2 linked regions of the Homo sapiens genome follow. The protein of the gene in region 1 purifies or fractionates together with the protein of each later gene. This does not show direct contact. Each region holds a gene or a part of one and is shown on either strand. Other genes may lie near its edges.

Region 1 (7,000 bases):
GGAGCCGAATGTGGAGATGTCCTCTGGTAGGTTCCCAATGGGAATGTGAAAGTACCTGCACCAGGGCACAGGTCAGCACCGGGGCACATCGCCGGGTCACAGAGACCACCGAGGCCGGCTCTGCCTGGGGACCACTGGCCCACAACGACAGTACTGTGCTCACCTGCTCATCTCGAAGGCCTGCGACAGGCAGGTGTCCAGGTTGAGGTAGTGACGGATCATGCGCCGGGCTCCATGGCGCTGCCAGTCCAGGACCCCATAGTTGATCTTGTCAGCCACACAGATAGGCACCAGTGGGAATTCCTCCAAGACAGGAATTTCACTGGCCAGCCTCTTCAGCTCCCAGCTGGACTGAACAGCGATGAGTGTGGGCCCCCGGCGCTCCTCCTGGGTCAAGGCAAAATGGAAGAAAAGACCTGGGTGGACCCAGCCTCAAAGAAGATGGGGCTCACACAGCAAGACCCCAACCACTCTCACCTTGTAGGCGAGCAGGAATCGCTGGATGGCTCTGCAGATGGTCTTCAGGTCAGTTTCTGCCCGAACTTCGAAGGTGTGTTTGGGGGGTGGCAGGAGCTCAGGGCCCACCTTCTCCAGGAGGAGGCCGTGCTCTGCTGAGTACAGGGCGCCAAGGCTGGGCATCTGGTTGCTGCGCACCTAGACCAACGCAGGCCACGTCAGCCTCCCCCTGCGCAGGAGGAAGTGGGGGCAGCCCTGGGGCAGACTCCACCACTGCCACGGCACTGCCAATTCAATCACGACAAGCACTCATGGGCAAAGGCCCTTGAGGACAAGACCTGGAGGGCCTGGGCACCCTGGGAGATGTCCTCCTTCCCCAAACCCTGCCCCAGCCAATGTGCTGCCATGGAGGGCCCAGGACTCACAGTGTCCAGCACAAAGACGGATGCCCTGCGCTGTGAGGGGATGAAGATCCCGAAGAGCGCTTTGTGGGCCTGTGCGTGGTGGTACAGGTAGATATGGCGGATACTCCCTGGAGAAGGAAACAAGACCGTCACCCCAGATGTGTGGGAGGCAGGCACATGATGGGCGGCTGGTGCAGGCCATACCTGGTTCCAGGTAGCTGAACTGGGCCAGAGAGCGCATCTCCAGGTGCTCAAGAGCAAAGGTCTCTGCTTCCCAGCCTGAAAGGTGCCTCACCAGCTGTTTATTGACCACACACACACAGCCCAGGTGCACCAGGGCCCGGAACAGTAACGGAACCTGGAAGAATCGGGCAGACAGGCCGGCAAGGGCTGGATGGTGGGGGCTCTGGCTGCCCACGTGACTTCTGCCCGGGATGTGGCTGTGCCCCTGCAGCTGCCCGGCCCACTGCCCAAAGGCCACTTTTGGCAGACACACTGCTGACATTCACCTCACCTGTGGGAACGAGTCCACTGTCGCTGCTGTTCCCCAGCCCACACCCTGGGCGGGTTTCTTTCCTCCATACCACCCTGCTGGAGCCTCCCCCAGTTCAGTCGAGGGTGGCTGGGGAGTCACCTGAGTCTCATATACGCCCTCGATGTCTGGCGCTGACAGCTCAGCGTTGATCTCGTTGATGTGTTCCTGGTACATGTCCTCTGGCACTGAATACTCATAGAGATTGTAGACCATGTTGGAGCGAGGAAGGACCCGATTTACCTGGCGAGAATACGACGATGATCTCGTCACTGGGCGTAAGTGGTAATGTCTGTGGTACACACACAAAGCACACGCTATTCGGAGTCCTAGACTTCTGGTGCCCCTAGCGACGGGGTACACCCACCACGCCACAGTCCACCTCTCTCAATGATTACAACTAAAAACTCTGGATGTAATTTTTATGTTATTTATTTATTTTTTACAGACAGGGTCTTAGTCTGTTGCCCAGGCTGGAGTGCAGCAGTGTGATCACAGCTCACTGCAGCCTCCAACTCCTGGGCTCAAGTGGTCCTCCAGCCTCAGCCTCCTGAGTAGCTGGGACAAGGAACACACCACCACGGATGGCTTTTTTTTTTTTTTTTTTTTTTTGTAGAAAGGAGGTCTCACTATGAGGCCCAGGCTGGTCTCAAACTCCTGGACTCAAGTGATCCTCCCAAATCGCTGGAACTGCAGGTGTGAGCCACTATGCCTGGCCTCTGGACGCAATTTTGAAAAGCAACCTGCAGCCTCTGAGAATAGACAAGAGCTGTCAGAATACAGCAGTCAACACTGATCTGGGGAGGTTCCCAGTTCATCTTCCTCCATTCTCTCATGGGTTTAACCTGAGGGTGTAGATGGCAAAAACTGAGAGAAATCACATTTTCCTAGTCAGAGAAACGGAAAGAGAGCCCCTGGGGGAGCCAGAGTGTGTGTGTGGGGTCCTGGGGGGCTCTGGGAGAGCTGGAGAGGGGCACCCTAGCTTCGTGAATGGGGTCCTGGAGGGGTCTGGGAGAGCTGGAGAGGGGGCACCCTAGCTCCCTGTGTGGGGTCCTGGGGGGGTCTGGGAGAGCTGGAGAGGGGCACCCTAGCTCCCTGTGTGGGGTCCTGGGGGGGTCTGGGAGAGCTGGAGAGGGGGCACCCTAGCTCCCTGTGTGGGGTCCTGGGGGGGTCTGGGAGAGCTGGAGAGGGGCACCCTAGCTTCCTGTGTGGGGTCCTGGGGGGGTCTGGGAGAGCTGGAGAGGGGCACCCTAGCTTCGTGAATGGGGTCCTGGGGGGGCCTGGGAAAGCTGGAGAGGGGGCACCCTAGCTTCCTGTGTGGGGTCCTGGGGGGGTCTGGGAGAGCTGGAGAGGGGCACCCTAGCTCCCTGTGTGGGGTCCTGGGGGGGTCTGGGAGAGCTGGAGAGGGGGCACCCTAGCTTCCTGTGTGGGGTCCTGGGGGGTCTGGGAGAGCTGGAGAGGGTGCACCCTAGCTTCCTGTGTGGGGTCCTGGGGGGTCTGGGAGAGCTGAAGAGGGGGCACCCTAGCTCCCTGTGTGGAGGGCTGGGGGAATTCTGGAGAGGCGAGCTGGAGAGGGGTACCCTAGCTCCCTGTGTGGAGGGCTGGGGGAATCCTGGAGAGGAGAGCTGGAGAGGGGGCACCCTAGCTTCGTGTGTGGGGGGCTGGGGGAATCCTGGAGAGGAGCACCCTAGCTTCATGCATGAACCAGCAGCACAAGTCCCAGGCTCACTACGAGCTGCACTTGCACAGGTGACCCAAAACAACGCAGCAGAGGCTCTGGAGGCTGAGCTGACATTGGAAGCTTTGCACAAAGAGGCAAGGAAGAGCTTGGGCACTGGAATTAACCGTGTTGGTTGTTGCTAAAACAAACAAACAAAAAAACCTGACACGCTAAAGGATTTTTAAAAATACCCAAAGTCTCAAATATGTAAAATGTCCAGGTTGCAATAAAGCGTTATTTGGCGTAACAACAACCAGGAAAATCTGAATAATTCTCAAGCGAGAAGAGAACCAGTAGGGTTAGATTTTTCCAGTAACATGAAATTAGACCGACACACACACACACCCACACACACACACACAAAATCAAAGAAATGAAAAATTATGTTCTGGTAAATATGAACTGGAACAATTAGTGTAATTGCACTTTTTAAAATGTATATATTTCCTGGCTGTTCACTGAAGGAATCTAGATGAAATGATACCCCTTGAGCTCTAAGCTTGGTTTCTCAACATAACCTCTCAACGAGGCTCAGGCTCTTTAGAGGAACAGCTAATTCCACGTCTGGAAGTTCAAGGTGAGCCTGGCCTCTCTTAGTGGCCAAAAAGCAAGGAAGTTTTCAAAGACCAACAGGGCATGTCAAAAGGACTCAGGTGCCAGCTTGAAGGGATCTGGCCAGCCCAATTTGGGATAATTTGAGTCTCAAGAAGATATTGACCACCAAAGAGTCTACTGTCTGGTTCCATTAATATGAAGTTCTAGAAAGTCACATGCACACAGTTACAGAAATACAGAAATCAGGCCAGCAGAAGGTTGCACAGGGGGACAAGAGCACCCTCCCGGGTGATGGAAACGTTCTGCACCTGGGTGGGGGTGTGGGTGACACAGGCATAGTCATGTGTCCAAAAACCCAATCAACTGCACATTTAAAAATCTGCACTTAACTATATGTAAATTACAGTAAGTCCTCACTTAACATCAATGGATTCCTGGAAACTGTGATGGTTAAGTGAAGTAATGTATAGCAGGTCCTCAAATAACATCATTTTGTTCAACATTCTTTCTTCCTTTAAAAAAAAAAAAAAAAAAATTCTGGGGCCGGGCGCCATGGTTCAACCTGTAATCCCAGCACTTTGGGAGGCCGAGGTGGATGGATTACCTGAGGTCAGGAGTTCGAGACCAGCCTAACCAACACAGAGAAACCCCATCTCTACTAAAAAATACAAAATTAGCCGGGCGTGGTGGTGCGTGCCTGTAATCCCAGCTACTTGGGAGGCTGAGGCAGGAGAATTTCTTGAACCCGGGAGGCGGAGGTTGCGGTGAGCCGAGATGCGCCACTGGACTCCAGCCGGGCAACAGGAGAGAAACTCCATCTCAAAACAAACAAACAAACAAATAAAAATAAATAAATTTAAAAAATACTCTGTAGAGAAGGGGTTTTGCCACGTTGCCCAGGCTGGTCTCGAATGCCTGAGCTCAAGCAATCCACCAGCCTCAGCCTCCCAAATTGCTGGGATTACAGATATGCAGCACTGCGCCTGGCCAACACAGTTTCATTATAGTTTCTGAGAAGAAAAAAAATCTGTTTCATTATACATCATCTTACTTAGTCATTTCACTTAAAATTGCAGTTTCTAAGGACCTATCAACAACATAAAGTGAGGGCCTACCGTGTACCTTAACATACCTAACGTGTGTGTGTTGGGCGGGATTTGGCTACGGTTGATGTTAAAACATTAAACACTGAGGCAGGAGGATTGCTTGAGCCCAAGAGTACAAGGCTGCAGTGAGGCAAGATCATGCCACTGCACTCCAGCCTGGGTGATGGAGTGAGAGACCTTCTCAAAAACAGAAACAAAAAAGTTAAACAAAAATCCTCTAATCCATAGTAATACTTTAAAAAGAGAGGAAAAATGAAAGGAATAAACCCATTTTGCCATGCCCTACCTTGAAAATTAAAAATAATTTAAAGGGAAAAAGCATTTATCTTGCTTAAAAAAAAAAAAAGCGTATTATCCCTCTCGTATCTTGCTTTTTAAGGAATAGAGTTCATTTCTACCTGATCTGCACAAAGCTCTTCGTTATAAAGGAAACAGCTAATACACACAGAGGAACAGAATCTGAAGATATCATCCTGGAGCCCCATGGACCCCACGAGACATGGATGCTGACACCATCCAGTCAAACGTTGAGGACAGAATATTCACACAGCGCCAGAACCTCCCTCGAGATGAGCTGATAGTCATAAAGGGAAACATCCCAAAAGTTAGGGCACTTCCACACGGCCACAGCACCACAGCACCACGCATCGAAAGGAAGGTGTAGAAACCCCACAGTCCCACCTGTTCTCTGTGGTCTCGATGCCTCTGCGTCCGCTTTCCTCTTGTTATCCGCCCACCTCGGTCTCCCAAAGTGCGGGGATTACAGGTGTGAACCACCACACCTGGCTCTGCGTCTACTTTCTATATGCACATTCTACTGAATCACCTGGCTGGAATCGAGTTTCACCTTCTCCAGAAAACCTCCTTGTGTAGGTACAAATATGCACACCTCATCTCCCCAACTACGTGTCACTTCTTACGTGATTCACAGCATCCAGTCAAGAAATGTGCTGAGCCGACACATTAACAACGGGGAGTTCGGGTGGAGATGCCATCTAAGAGCCTCAGCGCACTCATGGCCACATGAAAACCCTCGCAGTTTCTGCAGGTGGAAGAAGCCCAGCACAAAGACCCACCTACTGTAGGGTTCCATTTACATCAAATGCCCAAACAGGCAAACCCAGAGACAGGAAGTGGATCAGTGGCTACTGAGGGCTGGGGGAGGATGGTGACAGGTAAGGGATGCCAGGTTTCTTTTTGGAGTGATGAAAATATCCGAATGGGGGGGTGAGGGGAGGGGGAATATCAGGATAAACAGCTAATGCATGTGGGGCCTAATGCCCAGGTGACGGGGTGATGGGTGCAGCAAACCACCATGGCATGTGCTTACTTATGTAACAAACCTGCACTTTCTGCACATGGATCCCAGAAATCAAAGTAAAATTAAAAAAAAGAAAAAAAAAGAAAATGTCACTATTGACTGGCAATAGTCATGCCACTAAAAGTCATTGAATTCTGCACTTTAAATGGGTGAGTTGGATGGCGTAACTTTACATCCCAATAAAGCTGTTAACAACCAAAGAGCCTACGGAGACAGAGTTCACAATCTCTAACCAATGCCACTTGGTTTGTCCCCGCAACATGGACCTCGCGGGCAGACAAGCTCATCGTGACAAGGACACCAGCAGCTCCATTCCCGGCACTCGCTCTGCCCCAGGCTCGGTGCTCAGCGCTCACACACGTTGTTTTGAGGAATTCCTAGAACATCCCCATAAGGTACTGAGGAGATGGAGGCTGGAGGCCAGGCTAGATCATGGGAAAGCCACCTCAGGCTGCCCAGATGACTGCAGAGGCAGCACCAGCTCCTCCCTACCTTGCGATACGAAGCACCCTCCTCCGCTTTAGCGACTCGCTGGTTCACGTAGAACACACGGGGGATGCTCAGCCTGATGCAGTGCAAGTCACTGCCAACGAGCGCCCACAGCCTGAACAGGCCGGCCTGGCTGGTCTCGCTGATCTGAAAGGCCACACGGACATACAGCACATCACAGGACACACTGGAACCCACAGACGGGGCCACCTTCCAGGTAGCTTGCAGCTCCCAGCACAGGGCCTTAGGCCTCCCTACGATGGGCAGGAAACTCCAGGCCCACTCTAACCCTCCCATCCCAGACCTCAGGGCCCAGCTGGACACCCCCTCCCTGGGCCATCAGCAGAGCCACTGCCCTCCCCTTGGATCAAGGTCTATACCTGCACAATCTGCCACGGAAGGTCCAGGATGCTGCGG
Region 2 (4,305 bases), about 76 Mb from region 1:
TGAGATGACAGTCCTATTACTGCTCACTTACCTCTATATATGGCAACTAGTAGAACTGGGTATTTATATCAGAAGCCTTAGAATTATCCTTGTAGAATATTGAATTTTACAAAATTATCTGCAATCCACTTATGCCTCCTTTTATTTCTCCTTCCAGGAACCTTGACACTCTCCTTGGTCGTCTCAGGAAATCTTACTTTTTTTTTTGTTTTGTTTCTTTTTTGAGATGGAGTCTCGCTCTGTCGCCCAGTGGCTGTGATCTCAGCTCACTGCAACCTCTGCCTCCTGGGTTCAAGCAATTCTCCTGCCTCAGCCTCCCAAGTAGCTAGGATTACTGTATGCACCACCACACCCGACTGATTTTTGTAGTTTTAGTAGAGACGGGGGTTTCACCATGTTGGCCAGGCTAGTCTCGAACTACTGACCTCAGGTGATCCGCCTGCCTCGGCCTCCCAAAGTGCTGGGATTACGGGTGTGAGCCACTGCACTTGGCCAGGAAATCTTTTCAACATAAATTATTTCTCAAGGAAAATTTACTTTGAGGTTTAAGACACATATATAGTTCTGCCATATTTATTAAATGGCTCTTGAAGTATTTGATCTGTGGTTGAAGGCAGAAGATATCCACAATGGTTTGAGGAGCTCTGTCTTCAGAAATCTTTTTGTAAATCTAAAATAGAATAGATAATATATGGAAGAACAGCAAAGGAAACAAAACAAAGCCCATTTACTTTTACATTCTTTTTTGCCTAATGCTTCTATTTAACACACATCATGCACAAAGATTTGCTTACACATTTGCTGAAGTCCACATCATAGGCTGAGCTAGTATGGAACAGTGAGGATACAAAGGACTTAATACGGCCAGTTGCAATGGCAGCTTCAACCAGGCTTTCCAAGCTCAGAGTTGTTGTTCATCCAATAATCACACATATGAGTGTCTACTGAGTAGAGCATTATCTTAGGCACTACTGCTTAAACTATCACATATTTAAATAAAAAATGAAGTGGCAAGATAATTTGTATTGCTATAACATTGTCACAGTTTTCTAGAGTAGCCTTCATCTCTTGAATAATATTCAATCTGCTGATTTTTTTCATATTGGCTTATACATATGCTCATATGTCTCCCATTTAGAGTACCCTTCATTTGACACTGCTATCCTCTTTGTGTTTCTTTCCAGTTATTATATGCAGCAGGATTTTATTAGTTTCCTACTGTACCTGACACTTGATAATCTTGCACTTTTCTTTCCCCTGGCTTCTATAACATTTTCCCTTCCATCTTTCATCTCTTCACTTCTAAATCATTAGCAAGTCTCAAGGATGGTTCCAGTATTTGCACCTTTCGGAGATCTCCAGTGCTACTGTTCTAGTGGCAATAGCGCAGTTGGCCTCTTGGGCTCTATTCTAGTCCCTGTCTTGCCCAGATTTATCTTTCTAGATAAAAACTACAAATCATGGCATTCCCTTCCTCAGAACTTTTAAAAGCTTCCTATTAAGCCCAAAACCAAGCCCAAACACATAAGCTTGGAATTCAAGGCCATTCAGTTTGCTTCTTTGGATTTATAGCCCATCACTTCTGGACACACCATATACTAGATTAGCTGTACTACTTGATGGCTTCCAGAGTAACTGGATGCTTTCCTGTCTGTCTTTGCTCTTGATGTTCCTTCAAGAATGAACAACCCTTGGCCTTTTTCCACCTCCATACCCTTTATCTTATCATATTTCTGCTTGTGGAAATCCTTCTCATACCTTATGGTATAGTATATTGGCATTAGGGATTAGAAATTTTTTTTTTTTTTGAGATAGTGTCTTGCTCTGTTGCCCAGGCTGGAGTGCAATGGTGCGATCTTGGCTCACTGCAACCTCCACCTCCCAGCTTCAAGTGATTCTCCTGCCTCAGCCTCCCAAGTAGCTGGGATTACAGGCGCACAATACCACGCCCGGCTAATTTTTGTATTTTTAGTAGAGACGGGGTTTCACCGTGTTGGCCAGGCTGGTCTTGAACTCCTGACCTCAGGTGATCCACCTGCTTTGGCCTCCCAAAGTGCTAGGATTACAGGTGTGAGCCACCGTGTCCGGCCTAGGGTTTTTTTTTTTTTTTGAGACGGAGTTTTGCTCTTGTTGCCCAGGCTGGAGTGCGATGGCACAATTTCAGCTCACTGCAACCTCTGCCTCCTGGGTTCAAGTGATTCTCCTGCCTCAGCCTCCCTAGTAGCTGGGATTACAGGCTCCCACCACCACACCCAGCTAATTTTTTGTATTTTTAGTAGAGATGGGGTTTTACTATGTTGGCTAGGCTTGTTTTGAACTCCTGACCTCAGGCGATCCACCTGCCTCAGCATCCCAAAGTGCTGGGATTACAGGTGTGAGCCACTGCACCCGGCTAGGGATTAGAATTCTTACAGCAGCTACACTGAAAGGAGTTCAGATACCACCATTTTCATATGAAATCTCAGAGTCCATCAGATAAAATCTCTTTCTTAGCATTTTGTACTTTTTTTTTTGTATTAAGTTAGTACTTCTTTTTTTTTTTTGAGATGGAGTCTTGCTCTGTTGCCCAGGCTGGAGTGCGATGGTGTGATCTCAGCTCACTGCAACCTCTGCCTCCCCGGTTCAAGCGATTCTCATGTCTCGGCCTCCTGAGTAGCTGGGATTACAGGTGCCTGCCACCACGCCCAGCTAATTTTTTGTATTTTTAGTAGAAACAGGGTTTCACCATGTTGGCCAGGCTGGTCTCGAACTCCTGACCTCAAGTGATCCAACTGCCTTGGTCTCCCAAAGTGCTGGGATTACAGGCGTGAGCCACCGTGCCTGGCCAAGTTAGTACTTCTTAAGGGCAAGGAGGCATGATGTTAATTCATCTTTGTCTCCCTTATAGACCTGATACTTAGAATGTGTTTAATAACTATGTGTTAAATTGAATTAAGGAACCTCAATTTCCAAAACATTAAGGATAGTAAGATAAATCTGTAAATTTTGGGAGGAGGGCAAAGAAAGACTAGAACTCAAAAATTGCTCATTTCTACTAATAATAAGATCTAACTAGATAGAAGGGAAAGGCATAGCGTCTTACCACTCTTCTTAAGAAGTTCTCCTTTTCGGGATTTATCCAGATTTTCAAGAAAATGTTCAAAAACTTTCACATAAGGTGCTAGACTGGTCTTCTTATAATCTAAATTATGAAGAATGTACATTATAATTAGCATACTGGCAGCAAGAATAACATGAAAACACAACTAAGTTTCTTATAAGAATTCTCTAGGGCTGCCCAATTGAAATATGAGAGAAACATACATACTTTTAAATACTATATTAGTCACATTAAAAAAGGTGAAATTATTACTGAGACAGGATTTCACTCTGTCATGCAGACTGAAGTACAGTGGTTCCGTCTTGGCTCACTGCAGCCTCGATCTACTGGGCTCAAGGGATCTTCCCATCTCTGCTTCCTGAGTAGCTATAACTACAGGCATGTACCACCATGCCCAACCAATTTTTTTTTTTTTTTTGGTATTTGTAGAGACGAGGTCTCACTCTGTTGCTCAGGCTAGTCTTGAACTCCTGAGCTCGAGTGATCTCCCAGCCTCGGCCTCTGAAAGTGCTGGGATTACAGACACATGCCACCATGCCCAGCTAAAATATTATTTTTGCATGTAATAAAAATTGAGATATATGATACTCTCTTTCATACAAGTCTTTTATATTTATATATATATATATAATATATATACATATATTTTCTTTTTTTTTTTTTTTGAGACAGAGTGTCACTCTGTTGCCCAGGCTGGAGTGCAATGGTGCGATCTCGGCTTACTGCAACTTCCGCCTCCCAGGTTCAAGCAATTCTCCTACCTCAGCCTCCCGACTAGCTGGGATTATAGGTGCCCGCCACCACAATGAGCTAATTTTTTGTATTTTTAGTAGAGATAGGGTTTCACCATGTTGGCCAGGCTGGTCTCAAACTCCTGACCTCATGATTCACCCACTTTGGCCTCCCAAAGTGCTGGGATTACAGGCGTGAGCCACCGCGCCCGGTCCATGCCTTTATTTTTGAGTCTTGCTCTGTTGCCAGGCTGGTATGCAGTGGTGCAATCTTGGCTCGGGAACCTCCGCCTCCCGAGTTCAAGCGATTCTCCTGCCTCAGCCTCCTGAGTAGCTGGGACTATAGGTGTGTGCCACCATGCCCGGCTAAGTTTTTGTATTTTTAGTAGAGACGGGGTTTCACCATGCTGTCCAAGATGGTTTTGATCTCTTGACCTCGTGATCCACCTGCCTCAGTCTCCCAAAGTGCTGGGA

What was found. Proteins that work in one complex are often made in the same cells at the same time.
Region 2: the proteins of POLE (region 1) and PRIM1 fractionate together in Homo sapiens (co-fractionation; 2 studies listed by BioGRID). This does not show direct contact.

Annotation. Positions count from the first base shown.
Region 1 is NC_000012.12:132,642,343-132,649,342, forward strand, and holds part of POLE (DNA polymerase epsilon catalytic subunit A), read right to left. Parts: coding exon 6,964-7,000; intron 6,731-6,963; coding exon 6,587-6,730; intron 1,685-6,586; exon of another isoform or gene 1,636-1,684; coding exon 1,495-1,635; intron 1,219-1,494; coding exon 1,065-1,218; intron 989-1,064; coding exon 882-988; intron 655-881; coding exon 478-654; intron 388-477; coding exon 164-387; intron 56-163; coding exon 1-55. UniProt on the Homo sapiens protein: Catalytic component of the DNA polymerase epsilon complex. Participates in chromosomal DNA replication.
Region 2 is NC_000012.12:56,731,065-56,735,369, forward strand, and holds the end of PRIM1 (DNA primase small subunit), read right to left. Parts: intron 3,182-4,305; coding exon 3,083-3,181; intron 671-3,082; coding exon 651-670; 3' UTR 516-650; downstream 1-515. UniProt on the Homo sapiens protein: Catalytic subunit of the DNA primase complex and component of the DNA polymerase alpha complex (also known as the alpha DNA polymerase-primase complex - primosome/replisome) which play an essential role in the initiation of DNA synthesis.